2 separate regions of the Homo sapiens genome follow, and region 2 is linked to region 1. The links come from fine-mapping of genetic effects on gene expression. A gene starts in region 1. The other region holds a variant in brackets. All regions are shown on one strand. Distances are between the middles of the regions. Region 1 holds the start of LINC03113 (long intergenic non-protein coding RNA 3113). Region 2 overlaps LOC107985634 (a long non-coding RNA gene).

Evidence for each region. PIP is the estimated chance that this variant, and not a neighbour inherited with it, causes the effect. A credible set is the group of variants that fine-mapping cannot tell apart.
Region 2: its variant is the best candidate, but not a certain one, in a credible set for the expression of LINC03113 in aorta (GTEx, PIP 0.72).

Annotation. Positions count from the first base shown.
Region 1 is chrX:8,501,357-8,506,745 of GRCh38, reverse strand. LINC03113 (long intergenic non-protein coding RNA 3113) reads left to right here and starts at 2,182. Exons shown (of 5, transcript XR_001755793.2): 1 at 2,182-2,464.
Region 2 is chrX:9,409,655-9,415,043 of GRCh38, reverse strand. LOC107985634 (a long non-coding RNA gene) reads left to right here. Exons shown (of 4, transcript XR_001755795.1): 3 at 303-497; 4 at 586-5,389. It also overlaps the pseudogene LOC442443. Among named protein-coding and RNA genes, the nearest start is that of TBL1X, 53 kb to the left of the region's middle. RefSeq lists a silencer at 384-589. The variant G/T (reference allele first, on the strand shown) is at 2,533.

The sequences.
Region 1 (5,389 bases):
GCACATGTTCTCAGGACCTCCTGAGGGCTGTGTCATGGGACACTGATTGCTCATATTTGGCTCAGGATAAATCTCTTCAAATATTTTACAGAGTTTGACTTTTTTTTTTCAACAATTGCTTTATGAAGTATCCTGATGTTGTTATAGCAAGTTCACATGAATACTAGAATTGCTAGATGTCAGCTGAAACTGGCTGGTATCAAGGAAGCATTCTTAGACTCTAAGAACATGTCTGTTATACAGATCTTGTGGTTTCCATTCAAACATGAAAAAATATTTAATCAAATGAAGATCTTTTAGTACATTTGCTGTGTGAAAAGTGTGGATGCATTTTCTAAGCATGGTTATTTTCCCTTTTTTTAAGGAATCAAAGTATAACTGTGATCCTTTGTGCAAATATATAGTTTATTTGAAATCTTTTGGACAACTAGGTTTTAATACAAAACAAAGGCATTTTCAAATTTTGCATTATGGATGGGCATGGAGACTCACACCTCTAATCCCAGGACTTGGGGAGGCCAAGGTGGGCAGATCACTTCAGGTCAGGAGTTCAAGACAAGCCTGGCCAACATGGCAAAACCTCATCTCTGATAATACAAAAATTAGCCATGCATGGTGTGTCACGTGCCTGTAGTCCCAGTTACTTGGGAGGCTTAGGCAAGAGAATCTCTTCAGCCTGGGAGATGGAGGTTGCAGTGAGCCTCGATTGCACCACTGTGCTCCAGCATGGGCGACAGAGTGAAGCTGTGTCTCAAAAATACAATAAAAATAAAAATAAAATAAAATTTCGCAGTATTAGGGAGTTTTTTATTTACACTTGTATTCTTTTTCATCTCAAACTGTATTAATCATTTATGTCAAAGCAGAATTATGTAAGTCAGAAAAGGCATATGGAATTGTATGGAGTAGATTTGAGGGAGAACAAATATTACAATGAGTTATAAAAAGATGTCTAAAATTTCTGAGATATTTTAATTAGCAGCTAGAGAAACAGTGATGGGGAAGAGTGAAGTCAGAATCTTCCACTCCCATCGCTAATCAGCTGTTGCTATTGTACACAATACAGTTGAACATTAATAAAACCTCCATTCGTGTTTCAGCAGATGCCACGTGACATCTGTCAGAGCTGGTATTTGCTTTGCAGTGTTTCTTGCAGTCTTTTTGGCTTCTGTTTCTTGCAGTCTTTTTAGCTTCATGGGTATACCTTTAAAACATTGTATTAAAAAAGTATATTTTCAATGAGTACTTCATGCAGGTATTTAACTGTCTGGCAAAGATAACTGTGATCTTTTTATTAAAAATCTAATTTCCCTTATGTGAAACAATCAAGTATTGAGAAGTTCTCCACAGCCATGCAAAGGGCAACTGGGTTTCCTAGGGTTACATTATGTCTATGGAATATTTCAGGAAGAAGGAATTATTGTGTGGCTATTAAAAATAGTAACTTAAAAATATGGACATTGGTTAAAGTTTCATATGGGTTAGAGTTTTCAAAATAATTGATCAGAAATTTATATGTCTGTGTGCATTTTTGATATATCACACTAACAGGCTGGAAACAACAGGCTTTGCTGATGTACAAAATCCAGAATAATATCTTAAGAAAGCCCTTTTGTCACAGAAAATGTAACAGATCAGGGATTTAATTTAAAGTTATCTCCAGTAAGAGAGGAGTATTTTTCACCTCCTTGGGATGCATGAAATTGCAAAGAATTGAGAGAAACTGCAGTTCAGAGTGAGAAGGATAGAGTTTGCAATTCCAGAGGGAAAATTTATTATCAAGGTTTCCCGAATCACATCATCTCATGGTCAATGCCAAATAATAAGTAGATGCAATAAATATTTCCTTAAAAAACAATAATCATGTTGACAAAAATGAATATTAATGAAACATAAATTACAATTTCTAAATCAGCTCTAACGACAAAAGAAAAGTGCAACTTTTCATGAGGATTAAGGAAAGACAATGAAAAAGGGTTGCAGTCTGACTAACCTCCACATAACCCCGGGGAATGATGTCTGGAGTTTCATGGACTGACTCAACCATCAGTTATGTGTGCAACTTTCTGCTTTCCTCTAGCAACTGGACAAGAGAAGTAGAAATTCGCCTGCCCATTGACGTTGCAGCTATAAACACAGAAGAGTAGTGTATAAAAGCAGCAACAAGAGTGAGAGCATCTTAATAATGCCTCGCAGAAGTTTATGGGGCTGCCCTCTTTGAGACACATGGTCAGTTGCCTTAGTTTTCTCGACATTCCATGCTTATCTATCAACTTCCCAGAAGTATAATATTTTAAGTAGAAATAGTTCAGTCCTGGTGAGCTATTCTGGGAGAAAGAGGACAAGCTGCTTGTTCTCAGTGCAATGCACCCTCTTGCTTCTCTGTCGTGGCCCCATGGTCGTCTAGGTGTGGGAACGAGGGAAATAAGAAAGGGTTACATTTTGCTTACTGAACACCAGCAAGGTAAGCACTTTTCCATTTTCTAGCTATGTTAACATTGACCTGGGAAGTGAGACAGAGTATTCATGTTGCTCTCTTTCATTACATTCTTTGTATCAAAAGATTTTGCTTGGAATTGTATTAAATTAATAGGTTACATGACTGTTTCTCATCCCCCCCAACAAGGAATATTTTATATTTCTTCATTCATTCAGGATGTGGCTTTGTCCTTCACTGTGAGCACAAAGTTCCTGGAAATATATGTTTATACACACACAAACACGATTGACTAAGAAAAGAAAAAACATATATAGGTGTGTATATAATCTATGTATATTAAAATCTATTTTATTAGTTATTCTGTAGTTTTAGCTGCTATTATGAATAAAAATATAATCTAATTTTAAAATTTATTCTATTGGCATAAAATGCAAGACAATTTTGACATATACAGCTTTTATCATTCATTTTACTACTCTGCCTCACTAATTCTTAAGTACCTTTAATTGTTTTTTCAATTTTCTAGATATTTAGTGTCAACATCTGCAAACTAAACATTGTTGTAGCTTTAAAATATATGTTAATAATTTAACAATTGCTTTAGCTTTCTGGTTTATCAAGAATCTTCAAAGCCATGTTAAGTAAGAGTGGTACTGGTGTTCATTCTGTATTTTTCCCTTGATTTTTAAAAGAAATATATAATTGCTTTTTTCTTTCCAATGATATTTGCTGTTAAGTAATGGTCATGTTCTTCTACTCTTATCTTACCTAGAGATTTTTTAGGAATAGCCTCACATTTTTAGGCAATTTACCAAATGCCTTTCCATCATCACCTCCCATGAATATAAACAGATGGTTTTCTCCTTTAATTTAATAAAATAAATGATCTTAAGCCATTCATTCATGCTTTCATCCAATATTAAAAATATTGGTCATTATCTTGAATATAGTAGAATCTATCGAGTTGTAATTTAGAATGTTTGCACCTAATCATGCACAATAAGCATATAGAATTATCCTACAATTTTTTCCACTATTTTCCACTCATCTTAGCAAGTTATAGCTTAAAAGTTACACTAACATCATGAAATCGGGCAATTTTCCAGCTTTTTCTTTAGCCTAGAAAAGTTTATGTTACATAGAAATGATTTGTTCTTTAAAGCTCAAGTAGAACACAACTGTGAAACCATCTGGGTCTGATGTATATTATTTTTTAACCTGGCGTCTCTTTAATTACCTTTTCAACACCTTCCTTTATTTGTAGATTCAGTTTTCTGCCTCTTTGGGAAGCCAGTTAGAATATTTTTGCAAGAAACTAGCCACTCGCTTCAGAATTCTCATATTTATTGCCATAGAAGTACATAGACTATGCACTTATAATCTTTCTTTTTTTTTTTTTTTTTTTTTTAGTATTTATTGATCATTCTTGGGTGTTTCTCGGAGAGGGTGATGTGGCAGGGTCATAGGATAATAGTGGAGAGAAGGTCAGCAGATAAACAAGTGAACAAAGGTCTCTGGTTTTCCTAGGCAGAGGACCCTGGGGCCTTCCGCAGTGTTTGTGTCCCTGGGTACTTGAGATTAGGGAGTGGTGATGACTCTTAAGGAGCATGCTGCCTTCAAGCATCTGTTTAACAAAGCACATCTTGCACTGCCCTTAATCCATTTAACCCTGAGTGGACACAGCACATGTTTCAGAGAGCACGGGGTTGGGGGTAAGGTTATAGATTAACAGCATCCCAAGGCAGAAGAATTTTTCTTAGTACAGAACAAAATGGAGTCTCCTATGTCTACTTCTTTCTATATAGACACAGTAACAATCTGTTCTCTCTTTCTTTTCCCCACATTTCCCCCTTTTCTTTTCGACAAAACCGCCATCGTCATCATGGCCCATTCTCGATGGTCGCTGTCTCTTCGGAGCTGTTGGGTACACCTCCCAGACGGGGCGGCGGGGCAGAGGTGCTCCTCACTTCCCAGACGGGGCGGCCGGGCAGAGGCACTCACTTCCTAGACGGGGTGGCCGGGCAGAGGCGCTCCCCACCTCCCAGACGGGGCGGCCAGGCAGAGGCGCTCCTTACCTCCCAGACGGGGTGTCGGCCGGCACTTATAATGTTTCTTTTAATCTCTTAAATCTGTGATTTTATTGCCTTTTTATTCATAATCTCATTCATTTCTTTGTGCCATCTTATTTTTTCTCAATCTAATATGCTAGTACTTTTTCTGTTTTATAGTTATTTTCAGAGAAATGATGTTTGGATATATTTCTGTTGGCTACTATTTATACTATTTTAGTAATTTCCGTTTTTATCTTTATTCTCTTTTATTTTACTATTTTAATTGTTTTTTCTAGTTTCTTATATTGAATAATTATTTCATTTATGTTCAGCCTTTTTTCATTTTAATAATGAAAGCTTGTGAATATAAACAGGTTTATCATAGATTTTGGCATACAGAATTAGCCTTTTCATTACTTCCTAGATAACTGACATATCTGTTATGATGTTCCCTTTGATCTGAATATTGTTTAATACCATGTTTTTATTAAATTTACAAGTAGATCACTCAATTTACAAATGATTGGGTTTTTGAGGTCATTTTGTATTGTTGATACCAAGCTTTCATTGTTTATGAAAGTGTTTTGTAAAATCTGGACATTTTACTTTATAGGATTTTGTTTTGGTTAAGTCACAGCCAGCATGTGTATAAATACATGCACACAAACATGTATCCATAAATACAAATGCAGGTCGGGCACAGTGGCTCATGCCTGTAATCCTAGCACTTTGGGAGGCTGAGGCAGGAGGATCATTTGAGGTCAGGAGTTTGAGACCAGCCTGGCCAACATGGTGAAACTCCCACTCTACTAAAAAGATACATAAATTAGCTGGGCGTGGTGGCATGCGCCTGTAGTCCCAGCTACTCGGGAGGTTGAGGCAGGAGAATTTCTTGAAC
Region 2 (5,389 bases), 910 kb before region 1:
CTCTATGTAGGACAGGGGAGGTGAGGCGGGCTAATACCCCTTTAGATTCTCTGTTCTAGAAGGAAAACATGACCAAAACAAACATTATTTCAGATTTTTCTGTCACCAAAATCAATAAAACACACTTCTGGTTTTATACAGTACTAGCCAAAGACAAGAGAAATTAGAGCTTCTAAGAGCAATCCTGTGATCACCATTAAACTGTTATAGTTGTGTGTATATGACTATAAAATACTGATGCTTAGACAGAAAAGCATTGTAGTATTTCATTTTATTTTAAGTGATTTTATTTTATTTTAAAGCTACAGTACTTTCAAACTACTCGATAATACATAGCGTGGATTTTCCGAGTCCTGCTTCCACACGTGAGCTACCAGCGAGCATGACTCAGGCTGTGACAATGGATAAGGACAGCTGGAAGCAATGGTGTTCTTCTCAGCCGGAACCCGGTGCGGTCAGTGTGCAGCCTGACACTCGAAACTCATTCATCTTCCTGTGTAAGTACTTTCACATGGAGTCCAACCCTTGAGCAGAGCCCCAGATTTTCTGCAGTACTTCACATGTTCTCTCGTTGGCCTGTTCCAGATCCCTCTTCATGTTGCAGCACACCAAGGCTTTGGATTCCTTCAGCACTATTCGATTACATGAGACAAGCTTCTTGATCTGAGCCACCAATTTCCTGAGTGAAGGTCCAGGACTCAAACAGCTGGGAGAGAAGGCCGTTGCCAAATGCCTCCTGAGTGATCAGTTTCAACCCACTGAGCATCGTCTCGCTTGCAGCTGGTCGTCCCATGATTTCGGAAACGTAATGGTAGATCAGCTATCTGGGATCTGCTCAGAGGTAGAAGAGGGTGTTGGAAACCAAGTCTTTTCATTAGCCTAAACCATATCACAAAGAGGCAATACGGATGCTCCTAGTCGAATGGCTGGGCAGCTGACTGGTTTAGTAATAGACAGCTTAAGTTAAATGATAGCATTCACAAAGTTCCTTCCATTCAACTATGAAACAGGCCCCTACCTGGGCCCAATCTCCTCTACTCTGTACTTCAGAGGCCAGACGAGATTGGGAGCGTTCACGGTGGTATGGCTGTAGATTGTTCACGATGTTTCTGGTAGCTTTTGCCCTTTTAATGCTTGCTCTCTTTCTGTCCTCTGTCAAACGTTGTAAAACATAAATAAGGTCAAGTGCGCCACAGAAGACCCTACCTAAGGCCCTGAGCAGTACAAGGTTGTTGTACTTTCTGGAGTTCAATGATCGCATTCACGAAGTTCCTTCCATCCAATACCCTCTTCTACCTCCAGGAACATTCCAGATACCTGACCTAGCATTACATTTCCGAAATAATGGGACGATTTATCCAGAGTACTCCCGAATAAATAGCGTGAATGTTCTCGGTCCTGCTTGCAAGCATAAGCTACCAGTGAGCTTGTTTCAGGCTGTGAGAATGGATAAGGACAGCCGGAAGCAATGGTGTTCTTCTCAGCTGGAACCCGATGTGGTCAGTGTGCAGCCTGACACTCGAAACTCATTCATCTTCCTTTCTAAGTCCTTTCACATGGAGTCCAACCCTTGGGCAGAACCCCAGATTTTCTTCAGTACTTCACATGTTCTCTCGTTGGCCTGTTCCAGATCCCTCTTCATGTTGCAGCACACCAAGGCTTTGGATTCCTCCAGCACTATTCGATTACATGAGACAAGCTTCTTGATCTGAGCCACCAATTTCCTGATTGAAGGTCCAGGATCCAAACAGCTGGGAGAGAAGGCCGTTGCCAAATGCCTCCTGTGTGATCAGTTTCAACCCACTGAGCATCGTCTCGCTTGCAGCTGGTCGTCCCATGATTTCGGAAACGTAATGGTAGATCAGCTATCTGGAATCTGCCCAGAGGTAGAAGAGGGTGTTGGAAACCAAGTCTTTTCATTAGCCAAAACCATATCACAAAGAGGCAATATGGGTGCTCCTAGTCGAACGGCTGGGCTGTTGACTGCTTTAGTAATAGACAGCTTAAGTTAAATGATAGCATTCACAAAGTTCCTTCCATCCAACTATGAAACAGGCCCCTACCTGGGCCCAATCTCCTCTACTCTGTACATCAGAGGCCAGACGAGATTGGGAGCGTTCACAGTGGTATGGGTGTAGGTTGTTCACGATGTTTCTGGTAGCTTTTGCCCTTTTAATGCTTGTTCTCTTTCTGTCCTCTGACAAACGTTGTAAAACATAAATAAGGTCAAGTGCACCACAGAAGACCCTACCTAAGGCCCTGAGCAGTACAAGGTTGGTGTACTTTCTGGAGTTCAATGATCGCATTCATGAAGTTCCTTCCATCCAATACCCTCTTCTACCTCCAGGAAGATTCCAGATACCTGACCTAGCATTACATTTCCGAAATAATGGGACGATTTATCCAGAGTACTCCCGAATAAATAGCGTGAATGTTCCTAGTCCTGCTTGGAAGCATAAGCTACCAGTGAGCTTGTCTCAGGCTGTGAGAATGGATAAGGACAGGTGGAAGCAATGGTGTTCTTCTCAGCCG[G/T]AACCCCGTGTGGTCAGTGTGCAGCCTGACACTCGAAACTCGTTCATCTTCCTTTCTAAGTCCTTTCACATGGAGTCCAACCCTCGGGCAGAACCCCAGATTTTCTTCAGTACTTCACATGTTCTCTCGTTGGCCTGTTCCAGATCCCTCTTCATGTTGCAGCACACCAAGGCTTTGGATTCCTCCAGCAATATTCGATTACATGAGACAAGCTTCTTGATCTGAGCCACCAATTTCCTGAGTGAAGGTCCAGGATCCAAACAGCTGGGAGAGAAGGCCGTTGCCAAATGCCTCCTGAGTGATCAGTTTCAACCCACTGAGCATCGTCTCACTTGCAGCTGGTCGTCCCATGATTTCGGAAACGTAATGGTAGATCAGCTATCTGGAATCTGCCCAGAGGTAGAAGAGGGTGTTGGAAACCAAGTCTTTTCATTAGCCTAAACCATATCACAAAGAGGCAATACGGATGCTCCTAGTCGAATGGCTGGGCCATTGAGTGCTTCAACAATACGCAGCTTAAGCTGAACAATAGCATTCAGGAAGTTCCTTCTATCCAACAATGAAACAGGCCCGAACCTGGACCCAATCGCATCTACTCTGTACTTCAGAGACCAGACAAGATTGGGAGCGTTCACGGTGGTATGACTGTAGATTGTTCACGACGTTTCCAGTAGCTTCTGCCGTTTTAATGCTTGCTCTCTCTCTGTCCTCTGTCAAATGTCGTAAAAAATAAATAAGGCCAAGTGCACCACGGAAGACCGTACCAATGGCGCTGAGCAGTCCAAGGTTGCTGTACTTTCTGGAGTCAGTACTCCCGAATAAATAGCGTGAATGTTCCCAGTCCTGCTTGCAAGCATAAGCTACCAGTGAGCTTGTCTCAGGCTGTGAGAATGGATAAGGACAGATGGAAGCAATGGTGTTCTTCTCAGCCGGAACCCGATGTGGTCAGTGTGCAGCCTGACACTCGAAACTCGTTCATCTTCCTTTCTAAGTCCTTTCACATGGAGTCCAACCCTTGGGCAGAACCCCAGATTTTCTTCAGTACTTCACATGTTCTCTCGTTGGCCTGTTCCAGATCCGTCTTCATGTTGCAGCACACCAAGGCTTTGGATTCCTCCAGCACTATTCGATTACATGAGACAAGCTTCTTGATCTGAGCCACCAATTTCCTGAGTGAAGGTCCAGGATCCAAACAGCTGGGAGAGAAGGCCGTTGCCAAATGCCTCCTGAGTGATCAGTTTCAACCCACTGAGCATCGTCTCACTTGCAGCTGGTCGTCCCATGATTTCGGAAACGTAATGGTAGATCAGCTATCTGGAATCTGCCCAGAGGTAGAAGAGGGTGTTGGAAACCAAGTCTTTTCATTAGCCTAAACCATATCACAAAGAGGCAATACGGATGCTCCTAGTCGAATGGCTGGGCGGCTGACTGGTTTAGTAATAGACAGCTTAAGTTAAATGATAGCATTCACAAAGTTCCTTCCATCCAACTATGAAACAGGCCCCTACCTGGGCCCAATCTCCTCTACTCTGTACTTCAGAGGCCAGACGAGATTGGGAGCGTTCACGGTGGTATGGCTGTAGATTGTTCACGATGTTTCTGGTAGCTTTTGCCCTTTTAATGCTTGCTCTCTTTCTGTCCTCTGTCAAACGTTGTAAAACATAAATAAGGTCAAGTGCGCCACAGAAGACCCTACCTAAGGCCCCGAGCAGTACAAGCTTGGTGTACTTTCTGGAGTTCAATGATCGCATTCACGAAGTTCCTTCCATCCAATACGCTCTTCTACCTCCAGGAAGATTCCAGATACCTGACCTAGCATTACATTTCCGAAATAATGGAACGATTTATCCAGAGTACTCCCGAATAAATAGCGTGAATGTTCCCGGTCCTGCTTACAAGCATAAGCTACCAGTGAGCTTGTTTCAGGCTGTGAGAATGGATAAGGACACCCGGAAGGAATGGTGTTCTTCTCAGCTGGAACCCGATGTGGTCACTGTGCAGCCTGACACTCGAAACTCGTTCATCTTCCTTTCTAAATCCTTTCACATGGAGTCCAACCCTTGGGCAGAACCCCAGATTTTCTTCAGTACTTCACATGTTCTCTCGTTGGCCTGTTCCAGATCCCTCTTCATGTTGCAGCACACCAAGGCTTTGGATTCCTCCAGCACTATTCGATTACATGAGACAAGCTTCTTGATCTGAGCCACCAATTTCCTGAGTGAAGGTCCAGGATCCAAACAGCTGGGAGAGAAAGCCGTTGCCAAATGCCTCCTGTGTGATCAGTTTCAACCCACTGAGCATCGTCTCGCTTGCAGCTGGTCGTCCCATGATTTCGGAAACGTAATGGTAGATCAGCTATCTGGAATCTGCCCAGAGGTAGAAGAGGGTGTTGGAAACCAAGTCTTTTCATTAGCCTAAACCATATCACAAAGAGGCAATACGGATGCTCCTAGTCGAATGGCTGGGCCATTGAGTGCTTCAACAATACACAGCTTAAGCGGAACAAAGCATTCAGAAAGTTCCTTCTATCCAACAATGAAACAGGCCCGAACCTGGGCCCAATCGCATCTACTCTGTACTTCAGAGACCAGACAAGATTGGGAGCGTTCACGGTGGTATGACTGTAGATTGCTCACGACGTTTCCAGTAGCTTCTGCCGTTTTAATGCTTGCTCTCTCTCTGCCCTCTGTCAAATGTCGTAAAAAATAAATAAGGCCAAGTACACCACGGAAGACCCTACCAATGGCGCCGAGCAGTCCAAGCTTCCTGTACTTTCTGGAGTCAGTACTCCCGAATAAATAGCGTGAATGTTCCTAGTCCTGCTTGGAAGCATAAGCTACCAGTGAGCTTGTCTCAG